Linked DNA regions of Homo sapiens. The protein of the gene in region 2 purifies or fractionates together with the protein of the main gene of each other region. This does not show direct contact. Each region holds a gene or a part of one and is shown on either strand. Other genes may lie near its edges.

Region 1 (2,581 bases), on a different chromosome or scaffold from region 2:
CTCTTCCAAAGAAGTTATATCTATAAAATCTAGTTTTATGCAGGTTTGTCACAGCAAATGTAAAAGCGGATTCAAGAAGAATGAACTTAAAAACTGTGGAGCAAATTTTTGTTGAAAATATATAAAGTCAGAAAGAAAAAAGATGTAAATGTTGGAAGAAGCAAATTCTATTACTAATTCAAATGAAACTAAATGTCAAACACAGTACTTGTGTCAACTATTTAGCATCCCAGATTTTGTAACATATTTTGCATAAATTATTTGCTCTTCAAAAATTTTTGTCATTTTAAATCTAATTTTAATCTTTATGTTTTCCATTTTCTAATTTCCTTGCAATGTATTATTCTTATTCTTAATTCTCTACATTGAAATTTGGCTTTACGTCGTTAGCAAATTTATAAAGGGTTATAAAGCTATGATTCGTGAGTCTAAAATCAAATGCAAAATTTTATTTATTATGTAAACCAAAATGTCATTTGCAAGTTTTCTCATTAGAAGTTATCCTTGCAAAGATAGAAAAAGAAGAATTAATTTGTGTAAACAAGCACAAATTAACATATTTGTTAATAAATAGGTTTATCTACTAATAAACCTATTTCTAGACACATTCAAATTGATAATGATTTTTAGAAATGTTAAGGTTCCAAGGAGTCTTACAAGTGTATGCCCTTGATTTCCTGAAGGAAACCACTTTCTTTCTTAAATATTTTAAATTCATCTAAAGTGAACGACTATAAATAGAAGCAATCACCTTGGAACCACAGCTCTGTGCAACCAAGGCCCTAAGCTACACCAAATACGCCAGGAATTTTGAGACTTCTCATCTTTAAATTCAACCAAAAGGGTCTTTAGCAAGAAAAAAAATGCTGGATGATGATTATTATTATTTTTGCTTAATTTTTATTTTGCCATGTCCAGGTTAAGGGTGAGGGTGGTGACAATCTGAAAGACTGTGTCTGGAATCTTTATCACATATTTCCAATTTATTTCAGTTTTTGTCTAAAACTTGCATTTCTAACCTATCTTTTCCAGCATTTGATAATCTCCCATTTCCTCCTTCTAACCCCCATTCCTATGTCTCCCTTCCTGTCTATTCCTCACCGATTTAAACAACTGAAATGTTTACTTATGTTTGGAGCTGAAAAATGGAAAGTTTCACCCAGCATGGTTACAATAACAGCCAGCAGCTGCAGCAAACCATAAAGTTATGCAGTGTTTTGAAGTTCACAAACCACATTTTACATAAATTATCTCATTTTGTCTTCATAACAACCCTATGAAGACACATTAATCTCAAAGAAATTGAGCTCTTACCCCAAAACACAGGGCCAATAATTGGTGCAGTTGAATTATTCTCAAAATTTACAGGCTGTTAGTCTTTCCACTGTACTAAAAGATTTCTTTCTCTGATCAGAGCAAGAGAACTTCCAGAGATAATGGATAGAATGAAAGAATATATATCTATATATATTTGACATGTTGTTTAGTAATCCCTATTTTAATTCAATTCTCCATCTGTAAAATATTAGCTAACTGAATTATTTCTGTGTTCTACTCTGGGCTCTCACATTAAAACTCTGTTCAAAAAGTTTAACAAGTCACATATTTCTTAACATACAAGTTCGTTTGTGAATGTGCAGAACAGATGCTCCCAAGATGTGGATGCATGTAGGCCCCGAGGTACAGACATAAAATCAAGGAAGCACAAGGAAAGAAACCCCAAGGAAAAAACCAAAGACCTTCTAAATTGAGACTGCATAATTATAAAAGAGATCCATAGTACAGGGTTGAACACATGTTCAACACTTTGTCAACTGAACACATGTTCAATTCGGAGCTAATTGGGAAGACTTACATAAAATTCTTTTTCTTTTTTTCTTTTGGCAAGATTTCTTCTTAAACCATGAAATTTTTTTTACTTGTAATAATAGAGAACAATTTTCTCCATTTTCTTATAAGAAAAATAAAATATAATTTATCCAAATTGATGTATAGAACCTAAAACATATGCTAACTTGCAAATAATATATTTTACTGATCAACTCATTTTTGTCAAGTCTCTATTTCTAGTCCCTCCTGAATGTTTTGGAAAACCACAAAACTATACAGATTAATACAAATTACATTTTTACAAGGAAAGAAAACATTCCCAAATTTAACACTCAAGACTAATCACATAATCCTATTTTGAACTCAGATCTCTCTGACTCCATTGACTGCTTAGAAATAGTAAAATCTTTTTGAAAAAAAAATTTTCTAAAATAAAACTATTGTATATGAGAGTAAAAATATATTTGTTTTTGATTGTTCCTGACTAGAAGACAGATATCATCTCTCAAACTAAACACTCAAAATAAGAAATTGAATTCATGAAAACCAATACCTGATGTGAATTGTTGTTATTCAACTGTATAAAAGAAATGCAGATGTTCTGGGTATGTCAGAGCATGCGAAAGAAGAAGTTATGGGACTGGCAGGTATTTGGCCTCAGGAGAAAAGGTGAAAATTTTCCAGAATAGATATAATAACATCTTATATTGGCACAGCTCTTAACAGTTTATAATGCTGGGTAATATAACAA
Region 2 (3,573 bases):
CAAAAGTCACTTATTAAAAAGCCATAAAAGTCCTCTCTGAGGACGTCACTGGCTTAGAGCTTCAAGGGCTTTCTCCGAGGTGGGCAGAACAGGAACAGAGGACTGGCACACACTACAAGCTTCAGGGCCATGGGCACATGGAGGGTATTTCATTTACCAGGAGAGGAGATGCCCACAGCTAAGTCATCCTCACAACCAGGAAGGCCCTGTGCCACTCAGCCCCCAGGAGCCTCCTCAGATATCCCCATTGTTCAGGCTCTGCCAGGTTCTGGCCCTATCGCCAGCCTGAAGCGAGTCCTGTCCTCACAGACAGATCCTGTGGCTGCTGACACACACCTTTCTACATAGACACCTCTCATTTCATCTGTGTGGGGATCAGGGGCAGAGAATGGAGGAAAAACCACTACAGTCCTCCAAGGGAAGGAGACCCATGGAAGGCACGAGACACTGTGGTCCCCTCACCTTTGAATCCCTCTTGGTCACCAGGGTGTACAGGGTCTTTTTATTCAAATCAAAATGGCTGCAGACGTCCCTGGCAGCTTCCGGACCCTGGGTCACCATGGCGGTCATCAGGCTCAGGCAGGCGCGAGCCAACCTGCACAGGGAACCAGAGGAAATCGGACACGTCAACAACAGCAGAAGCACAGAGCCGCCTCACCACAAAGCCAGCTGCAAGCTGCTTGTGTTATTTGCTATCCCCAAACCAGAAAAAAAGAAGGAAAAAGACATGCTCTTTTTTTAAGGAAAAAGAAAAAAAAAAGCATAAAGATTCAAAATAACGCTAAAAATTAAAACTAAGTAGGATTAACAATATAAACACAAGATTTGAAGAAGATGGACATTTCTCTCTGGAGTGAGCCACTGTGTGATCAATAGACCACACCTCAGTCCCTGTGACTGCAGAATACAGAGGACGACTTCTTCACAAAGGCATCTCTGAATGCGAGCTCTTGGCTGTCTTTCCGTTCTGCGGTTATCCAGATTCCATGGTTTTCTGAGCACCTGCTACATGCAAGGCCCTGTTCTAGGTGCTGGGAAGGTGGCATTTTATAACACAGGCAAGGCCCTGCCACATGCACCTATAGGATTCCAGTAGAGGGAGTCACTCAACAGATAATAGCAGCAAGGACAGTAGCAGGCAGGACAAGAGGGACAAGGGGTAAGTAAGAGAGGAGTCAGGGACAGCCAGGGCTGGTCCACAAAGGAAGGGGGCAGAGACTCGGTCACTGTGGCCTCGGAAATAGCTCAGCTCTCCTCTAGCCATAAAGGTACTGACCAAATGCACCTGCGGAGAGCTGAATGCAGACCAAACCCAAAGGCCCATCCTTTGTCACACCAAGGCAGACTGCCTACCTGTAACCTGAGGCATACAGGGACTCACAGATGAGCTTCATGTGGTTGTTCATCAGCTTTTTCACAATGTTGGTTCCCACAACATGGAAATGTGAAAGATCACTTGCTGTCCGCAATAATATGGCCTCGAAAACTTGAAATATTAACATCGTCTGCAAAGACAGAATTGAAACGCTTAGAAATCGTCTCATTTCCTTTCCTCCTGTACATATATGCTCCTTTTGTCTTAGCCATAGTTACTTGTAGGCTTAAAGCCTTCAACATGCAGGATGACGCCCACCCAGATCCTGAGTCAAACGCGACAGCTTGGCAGGCTGATCTGCAGGACCCATGCCCTGCATGTAGCCCCACTCCCATAGTCCAGCAAAATAAAGAACAGCTTGTTAGGGCCAGGCGTGGTGGCTCACGCCTGTAATCCCAGCACTTTGGGAGGCTGAGGTGGGCAGATCACGAGGTCAGGAGATTGAAACCATCCTAGCTAACACGGTGAAACCCCGTCTCTACTAAAAATACAAAAAATTAGCCAGGCGTGGTGGCGGGCGCCTGTAGTCCCAGCTACTTGGGAGGCTGAGGCAGGAGAATGGCATGAACCCAGGATGCGGAGCTTGCAGTGAGCCGAGACTGCGCCACTGCACTCCAGCCTGGGCAACAGAGTGAGACTCCGTCTCAAAAATGAAAGAAAAGAAAAGAAAAGAAAAGAAAGAAAGAAAGAAAGAAAGAAAGAACAGCTTGTTTACAATCACAGAAAATCAAATGAGAAGAAAATTCTCTTAATGACTGGGTCTCATTCCTTTAGAGATATTCAGATCTACATCCTTATAGCAATAACCCTGAGATTTCAACAGGCGCATCAATATCCCAATGTTCAATCTCTTTGGAATCAGAAAACAATCATCAATTCATTATGTGTTGTGAGTCTGTGACACCACATGTTTATGTGTTTCCCTTTTGTTTAAATAAACCATACCGAAACCAAGTATATTTTGATTAGGAATCTATGATCCTTCCTTCTGATGTCATTCATCAAATGTTAATAATAAGTGAGAATTTTCCACTAAAATGCTTTCAAGGTCATGGAGGCAAAAAATGAATACATTCCTACAGCACAGGGACAAAGCATCATTTTCTATAGAAAGTTGGTAATGGAAATTTCTATCACATTTTTCCTCATCAAACTTAACAGCAGCATTAACTTTTCTTCTCTTCATCAAGCCATGTAAGGAACAACTTACTTCACTTTCAGGTCGTTTCTCTCCACTTAGGAGCTGGAAAATTTCGACACACTCAACAGAAATCTTTATATACCCTTCCACAACATCATACACATCTTCTCGTGGTAGCTTCTTGGCAGCAGACACAAACGCTTCCAAGCCTGAAAAAAAAGTTATGTTCAAACATTAACAAGGTCAGTCTTCTTAGAAACAATCACAGCCACCACTGCAACCTGCTTTCCCTATTCTGTGACCTTCCCCGATCCACCTACACTGCACAGAAGCTACTATGAATGCTATCAACTTAACTGTTTCTCTCCAAAATTCATGTTGAAACCCTAAACCCGGCCGGGCGCGGTGGCTCACGCCTGTAATCCCAGCACTTTGGGAGGCTAAGGCAGGCAGATCACCTGAGGTCAGGAGTTCAAGACCAGCCTGGCCAACATGGTGAAACCCCCTCTCTACTAAAAATACAAAAATTAGCCAGGTGTGGTGGCACATATCTGTAGTCCCAGCTACTTGGGAGGCTGAGGCAGAATTGTGTGAACTCAGGAGGCAGAGGTTACAGTGAGCCGAGATCGCGCCATTGCACCCCAGCCTAGGTGACAGAGCAAGACTCTGTCTCAGGAAAAAAAAAAAAAAAGAAAGAAAGAAACCCTAAGCCCTAAAAAGACAGTATTTGGAGATATAGTCTTTTAGGAGATAACTCAGGTTAAGTGAGTTCATGAGGGTGAGGTCCTGATCTAACAGGACTGGTGTCCTTAGAGGAGAAGGAGACATCAGAGAGCTCCCTCTCTGCATGTGGATAGAGGAAAGGCCATGTGAGGACACAGCAAGAGGGCAGTTGTCTGCAAGCCAGGACGTGCCCTTACCAGGATGTGACTATGCCAATGCCTTGATCGCGGACGTGGCCTTCAGAACTGTGAGGAAATAAATTCCTCTTGTTTAAGCCACCCAGTCTATGGTATTTTGTTATGGCTGCCCTAGTAGATTAATCCACAAGGACATT
Region 3 (3,573 bases), on a different chromosome or scaffold from region 2:
TCTGCAGGCTCCAATTTGGGTGCCATTGGGGTGCCAATTTGGCACTGGGCTATGTGGGCAGACCTGGCTCTGGTTTTGTCTGGAACCTAGGGTGGGACTGGATTCTGGGGCCATAGTTGCTGGCCTGATGCTGGGTGGGCCCGGAGTCTGTATCTGCAGGGGCCAGCATGGAGGCTGGGTCTGTGGGTGCAGGCATTATGACTAGGGATGCAGAGCTGGACTGAGGCCTGGTGTTGGGGTAGGCTGAGAGCCTGAGTCTGGGTGACCTTCCCTCTTAAAGCAGATAGTCATGAAAATTCAAAGATAAGCTTTGTTCTAAGTGTGGGAAGACAGGGACATGCCAGCAAATGGACTTCTTTTAAGCATTCAGTGGCTGGGAGCTGACTAGCAAGCAGCTTCTCCAGATCCTATCCTTGACCATGGTGGCTGAGGGTCTTGGGTTAGCTAAGCTCCACTTTACCTAGCATTCCATCCGCAGTAAGTTAAGCCTTGGAATAAAGACTGCATTGGCAAAATTCTTAACATACTACTGTGAGTGCTGGTGAGGGTGTCATAAGATGGACAGTCTTTATATCACTGGTAGGATTGAAAATTTATACCACTCTTCTGGAAAGTAATTTGGCACAGTATAAAAAAGGCTTTTATAATGTCCATTCCCTTTGGTCTAGTTTTCATATTTATAGAAGTCTATCTTAAAGAACTAGGGAAGTGGACATAGATTTATATTAAGAAATCTTAACTTGTATACTACTTATAATAGGGGAAAATTGGAAAGAATCTAAATGCCCTAGAAAAGAGGACTAGTAAATCATGTCAGTTATGTAGCTATATGATGAGATATTTTGCAACCAACTTTCAAATGCCTAATGACATGGAGAGATGCTCATGATATAATGTTGAATTGAAAAACATCAGGATATAACCTTTTATACACAAATATGATCCTTCTTTTTAAAAAAGGGGAATAAGAAAATACATGTTGGCCGGGCGCGGTGGCTCATGCCTGTAATCCCAACAATTTGGAAGACCGAGGTGGGTGGATCACCTGAGGTCAGGAGTTTGAGACCAGCCTGGCCAACATAGTGAAACCCCGTCTCTGCTAAAAATACAAAAAATTAGCTAGGTGTGGTGGCATGCACCTGTAATCCCAGCTACTCAGGAGGCTGAGGCAGGAGAATCACTTGAATCGGGGAGGCAGAGGTTGCAGTGAACCGAGATTGCACCACTGCACTCCAGCCTGGGCAGGCGACAGAGCGAGACTCCGTCTCAAAAAAAAAAAAAGAAAAGAAAAGAAAAGAAAAGAAAATATATGTGTATATACGGTTAAAAAAAGACCAGAAAAAAGCAAATTATTATGAGTGAAGATATTATGGGTGATTTGTGTTTTCTTTTTTAAACTAGCCTGTATTTTTTTCAAATTTTCTACAAATGAGTCTGTATGATTTTTATAGTCAGAAAAAGCAGTAAATGTAGAAATGTCTCCACACACACCCTACATTGCACCAAAAAAGACTTATTTGTCACAGTTGTAGGCAAAAAATGGTTTACGTTAGGGTTGAATTTGCCAATTATCATAATGGGCAAATGGGTTCTGAATCCTCCAGCTTTCTGCACTGTATCGTGATTACGGCCGCTGGTGCCAGTACTGGTGTGTGAGCTCCAGCACGGCCCATCTGCTGCTCAGGCTTGCTTGGCGGACACAGATTTATTTCATTTAGTTTGGTAATTTGGCAACAGTTTCTCTTTTCTCATTATCCTAGCTGGGATTCAGTACCAGTGTTACTCATTTTGTTTGCCAGTTTGTTGTTTTCTTTTGTTCCATTTTGTGAAGATGAAGAAGCCAACAACAGGAATTCTGTCTTCCGAAAATGCAGTGCTTGTCCTTTCGGGATCTTGGGCATGCCTTGCTAAAGTGCTCTCTATTTTTGACACTTGCAAGCCATTTCAATTGTTTGGATAAATAGAAAGCTTCATGGTGTATTTTTCAAAGAGCTTAGCATTCCTTTCCTCTCCCCACTCCACCAAGGAAGATTTGGAAATTGTTCCAAATAGAAATTATAAACATTAGCCTGGAGCTGTGCTGTCTCTGTCTGGTTTTGATGCTTTTTTTGTTTTAACTAAAGGCTCATGTTGTTTGTTTAATCTTCATCAGTACTGCAAAAACACATGGTATAAGACTTAACTCTGCCCCAAGCACCCTACACATAAGAAGGGATTTTCATCTGAATTAGTTTGTATTTCAAAGAGCACTGGGATAGCCAGATTGCTAAGAATTTGCTCAAGTAAAACTTTAGAACTATTGGAATCTTAGAGATGTCTTGAATGGATTTGTTAGGATAGGATGGCTGCTGCCTGAGAATCCTCTTTGAACCTGACACTATTTTTTTTTTTTTTGAGGAGACATTCTTTGTAATACTTTGTGCTACTTTTCTCTCTAGGTTACCCTGAAGAGACTTACCCAATTTATGACCTTTCAGACTGTATCAAGCGTAGGCAAGAAACAATCTTGGTGGATTACCCTGACCCAAAAGAACTTTCTGCTGAAGAAATAGCTGAAAGAATGGGAATGATAGAAGAGGAAGAATCAGATCATTTGGGTTGGGAAAGTCTGCCCACTGACCCCAGAGCCCAGGAAGATAATTCTGTTACCTCGTGTGATCCAAAGCCAGAAACATGTTCCTGCTGTTTTCATGAAGACGAGGATCCTGCTGTCTTGGCAGAGAATGCTGGATTCAGTGCAGATAGCTACCCTGAGCAAGAGGAAACCACCAAAGAAGAGTGGTCCCAAGACTTTAAAGATGAAGGGTTGGGCATCAGCACCGATAAAGCATATACAGGCAGCATGCTGAGGAAGCGTAACCCCCAGGGTTTAGAGTGAAAACAGCCAGTCTGAAGTATCCATTACTCAAGTCCCAAGGTGACCTCTCTCTCCTCAGATTTCCTTCTTGGCCCTGTGCCCTGCACTTTCTTCACTGTGTTCAAGTGTCATAGCTATCAGGCCACTATCATGGATATCATGTATCCTTCCTGGTGCTCACACACCTGTCACCTTGTAAAACACGGACATTAGTGTGAACACAGGACAGCTTCGCTCTTTCTCTTCCTGCCTTTCCTCTATCAGAGAAGTTGATCCATTAAGTAATTATGTTTGGTCTATTGTAATTACAGATGGGACCACTCAGGGGCAAAGGTCTGACTCTTCCTGGTAGGTGTAACAGATAGTTCACCTGTGAACGAACATCAGCTTACAGATGATGAGGACTTAAGGTTGCAAGAATGAAGATTTCAGACTCCAAGATCCCTTATTCTTTGGGCCTTGAGCAGGTTAGTAGTCCCCTGGTGAGAAGAGAACATTTTGTTTGTGGGGCTAATGGGCCCAGAGGAGGGTAAGACTCTGCTGTCTAAGCTGAAGCCTCTTCCTCGCAGCGAGGGTCTTCCTAGGAACATTGATGCTGCCTCAGACATCCTCTTTTCTCCAGAGTAGGGAAGACTCCCACTGATCTGAGAATGAGCCCAGAGGCTTGTTTGGGGACTGTTTTACTCTGATACTACCTGGATATCTAGCTTCCTTTA
Region 4 (3,573 bases), on a different chromosome or scaffold from region 2:
TCAAGATAGGACAAAAGATATGAGCCCACTCAGCTTTCACAGGTCTATTTTCACAATGACAGTGCCCAACACATCCATCTTGGGGTGCCCAGAGTAGTCACCAGGACCTTCCTTCCAGCCCTAAGTGTACTACAGAGGCAGCTCTACACAGTGGGCAGACGGAGGCACTCAGAGACAGACACTTTGTTTAGACAGGTATTCAATTCCACAGTAATAATGTTCCAGAGGGTTGCAAACAAAGAGCATTTTTTTCAACAACTAACAGATAATCTTCCTCTTAGGTATCTGAGGTAATTCTCAGGCATACCCTTACTTGGGGAGAAGGAATATAACAAAGATGGAAAAGCTGGAGGAAAAGGGTTATGTGAGGAGCAAGAGAAAAGGTGCCTATAGCTTTATAGGTACACACAGAGATGAAAAGACATGATACTCAAGGTGGTTCAACTCAAACATGCAGAGTCATCAGATTCCAGCTTACCTGTCCATTATGCCTAACATCTGCTTGCGAATGTCCTGGGCCCGGCGCAGGGAACGAGCCTGGATAAAGTTCTCATAGCACCATGGGTTGGAGAACTTGTTGTTCTTCCAGGAGTTGTACACAGCTAGCAGGGTGAGGTGGTCCCCTTCAGTCTGGTGGAATTTGGCCTTCTTCTGATCTGCAAGGGCTTGTTTATCCTGCCAAGCAGTGGGACAGAGGAACATTTCCGACTCAACAGCTACTAACTGAACATGGAGCAATTCTAGGGAGCCCTACAAGACCCTATCAAAAGTGTCCACATCAGGCTAGGCATGATGGCTCAGGCCTGTAATCCCAGCATTTTGGGAAACTGAGGCAAGAGGATCACTTGAGGCCAGGAGTTTGAGACCAGCCTGGCCAACATGGTGCAACCCTGTCTCTACTAAAAATACAAAAATTAGCAGCACACGGTGGCGCACGCCTGTAATCCCAGCTGCTCTGGAGGCTGAGGCAGGAGAACTGCTTGAACCCGGGAGGTAGAGATTGCAAGATCATTCCACTGCACTCCAGCCTGGGCAACAGAGTGAGACTCCATCTCAAAAAAAAAAAAAAAAAAAAAAAAGTCCACATCAAGCATTGGAATGGCAACAGGCCAACTACCCCAACTTCATGGCACCCCCATCTAAACTTGGATCTGAACTTCCTACCTTGGGCCTATAGAAGACGTTCTGCACAGACAGCATGGATACAATGGTCAGCATTTCCTCACTGCAGCCCAGATGCACAGACATGATGAGCATTTTGCATAGCATTGGCTCCAGAGGGAACTCTGCCATCTAGAGGGACAAAAAAAGACTACAACTGCTTCCCTGTGGAAGACACATTTGGATTCACCAGAGCAAGACCTTGGTCAGAGTGGGTAACAACACAGATTTTCCCAAAGCATAATGATGCCTTGGGATGCCTTTCTCTATCAGAAGAATGCTGTTGTTTATTCTTTTCCCAAATAAACTCCAACGGGATGTATGTGACCAAGCATATAACTACTGTTGGGGTAGATGAGAATTTTGCAGATGCCGTTTCTAATTAAGGCTACATTCAGTAATACATCCTCAGGCAAAATTATGAACAGAACACCTTTTTGTATAAAGAAGAAACAGTTTAAAGTGACAGTGGAGAAATTCAGGTTAAAAACAAACATTTAGAATTTTACTCAAAGCTTATCCACGGCCTCAGCCTGATTTTGTACAGACCGAAGGATGTGAAAGGCTGACCAGGGAATCTTCCCAAAAGCACAGGAAGTTGAGTCTGTCCCTTACCCGGCGGCCCAAGCGAGTGAGCAGGCCCTCGTCATCCAGGGCCCCCAGTGTGTACAGCTGCTCCATGGCTGTGATCAAAGTTTCCATAGGTGGGGCATCCATGAAATCAAAGGACAGCAGATCATTGATACCCATGGCCTAGAACAGAAAGGAAGAAGGCATGTGATAAGAGGGTCAGTCTAGCCAGTGTCAGCATGTGGGGAAGCTACTTGTTACTTTATTTCCCATTTCTTCAATTGCAATTAGGAAGCCACCGGTGAGACTGGCGGTAACTTCCAGGGCTGGGCCACATAAAACTCAGACTATTATAATAGAAAGCACATACTTGAGACAGAGTCTCACTCTGTCACCCAGGCTGGAGTGCAGTGGCCCAATCTCAGCTCACTGCAACCTCCACCTCCTACGTTCAAGCGATTCTTCTGCCTCAGCATCCCAAGTAGCTGGGATTATAGGCACCCGCCATCATGCCCAGCTAATTTTTGTATTTTCAGTAGAGATGGCGTTTTACCATGTTGGCTGGGCTGGTCTTGAACTCCTGACCTCAAGTGATCCGCCTGCCTCGGCCTCCCAAAGGAAAGCACATAATTTCTCAGGAAACTTTTTGAAAATATTCTCTCAGTTGGGCATGGTGGCTCACACCTGTAATCTCAGCAGTTTGGGAGGCCAAGGAGGGAGAATCGCTTGAGTCCGGGAGTTGAGACCAGCCTAGGCAACATGATAAAACGTCTTCCAAGAAAAAAAAAAACAAAAAACCCTAACACTCTCTCAAAATGACAATATGTACAACTCAACAGCAAAAGGACAAACAACTCAATTTAAAAAATAGGCACAGAGCTTGAATAGACATTTCTTCAAAGAAGATATACAAATGGCCAACAAGCACATAAAAAGATGCACAGATGCACAACATCAGTAGTAATTAGGGAAATGCAAATCAAAACTACAATGAAATATCACTTCATACCCACTAGGATGGCTATAATTTTTTTAAAAAACAGAAACTAACAAATGTCAGTGAGGACGGGAGGTATCAGAAACCTCATGCATTGCTGGTGGGAATGTAAGATGTTGCAGCCACTGTAGAAAAGTTTGGTGGTTCCTTAATAGGCTAAATACAGAATTAGCACATGACCCAGCAATTACACTTCTAGGTATATATCCAAAAGAACTGAAAGCAGACTCAAACAGATACCTGCACACTAATGTTCACAGCAGCATTATTGATAATAGCCAAAAGGTAGAAACAATCCAAATGTCCATCTGCTGATGAATGGATAAACAAAATGTGGTATATACATACAACAGAATACTATTCACCCTTAGAAAGGAATGAAATAAATGGATAAACCTTGAAAATAACATGAATAAATCTTGAAAACATTATTCTAAGAGAAACAGGTCAGATACAAAAGAATATTGTATGATTCCACTTAAATGAGGCTATCTAGAATAGACAAATTCAGAGAGGTAAAAAGTAGAAGAGTAGTTACCAAGGGATAGAGGAAGGGGGAAAGGGGAGTTACTGTTTAATGGGTACAGAGTTTCTGTTTGGGACAATGAAAAAGTTCTGGAAATGGATGTTGGTGATGGTTGTACAACATCTTGAATGTATTTAATGCCACTGAATTGTATACTTTAAAAAGCTTACAATAGTAAATGTTGTTATGTATTTTACAATAATAATAATAATAATATAGTCTACCAACTTGTCCTGTCTCTTGCATACATCATTTCTACTATATATCTATGAGGGATCTCATACCATGTTAGGTGGGAGGGATATAAAGATGGCCAGGA

Evidence for each region.
Region 1: the proteins of URB1 (region 2) and LRRTM3 purify together in Homo sapiens (co-immunoprecipitation; one large-scale study listed by IntAct). This does not show direct contact.
Region 3: the proteins of URB1 (region 2) and RIC3 purify together in Homo sapiens (co-immunoprecipitation; one large-scale study listed by IntAct). This does not show direct contact.
Region 4: the proteins of URB1 (region 2) and DHX8 purify together in Homo sapiens (co-immunoprecipitation; one large-scale study listed by IntAct). This does not show direct contact.

What each region holds. Positions count from the first base shown.
Region 1 is NC_000010.11:67,099,506-67,102,086, forward strand, and holds the end of LRRTM3 (leucine-rich repeat transmembrane neuronal protein 3 precursor), read left to right. Parts: 3' UTR 1-2,046; downstream 2,047-2,581. UniProt on the Homo sapiens protein: Exhibits a limited synaptogenic activity in vitro, restricted to excitatory presynaptic differentiation. May play a role in the development and maintenance of the vertebrate nervous system.
Region 2 is NC_000021.9:32,382,960-32,386,532, forward strand, and holds part of URB1 (nucleolar pre-ribosomal-associated protein 1), read right to left. Parts: intron 2,726-3,573; coding exon 2,586-2,725; intron 1,506-2,585; coding exon 1,354-1,505; intron 596-1,353; coding exon 463-595; intron 1-462.
Region 3 is NC_000011.10:8,110,003-8,113,575, reverse strand, and holds part of RIC3 (protein RIC-3 isoform a precursor), read left to right. Parts: intron 1-2,438; coding exon 2,439-2,878; 3' UTR 2,879-3,573. UniProt on the Homo sapiens protein: Molecular chaperone which facilitates proper subunit assembly and surface trafficking of alpha-7 (CHRNA7) and alpha-8 (CHRNA8) nicotinic acetylcholine receptors.
Region 4 is NC_000017.11:43,518,471-43,522,043, reverse strand, and holds part of DHX8 (ATP-dependent RNA helicase DHX8), read right to left. Parts: intron 1,915-3,573; coding exon 1,777-1,914; intron 1,294-1,776; coding exon 1,165-1,293; intron 676-1,164; coding exon 479-675; intron 1-478.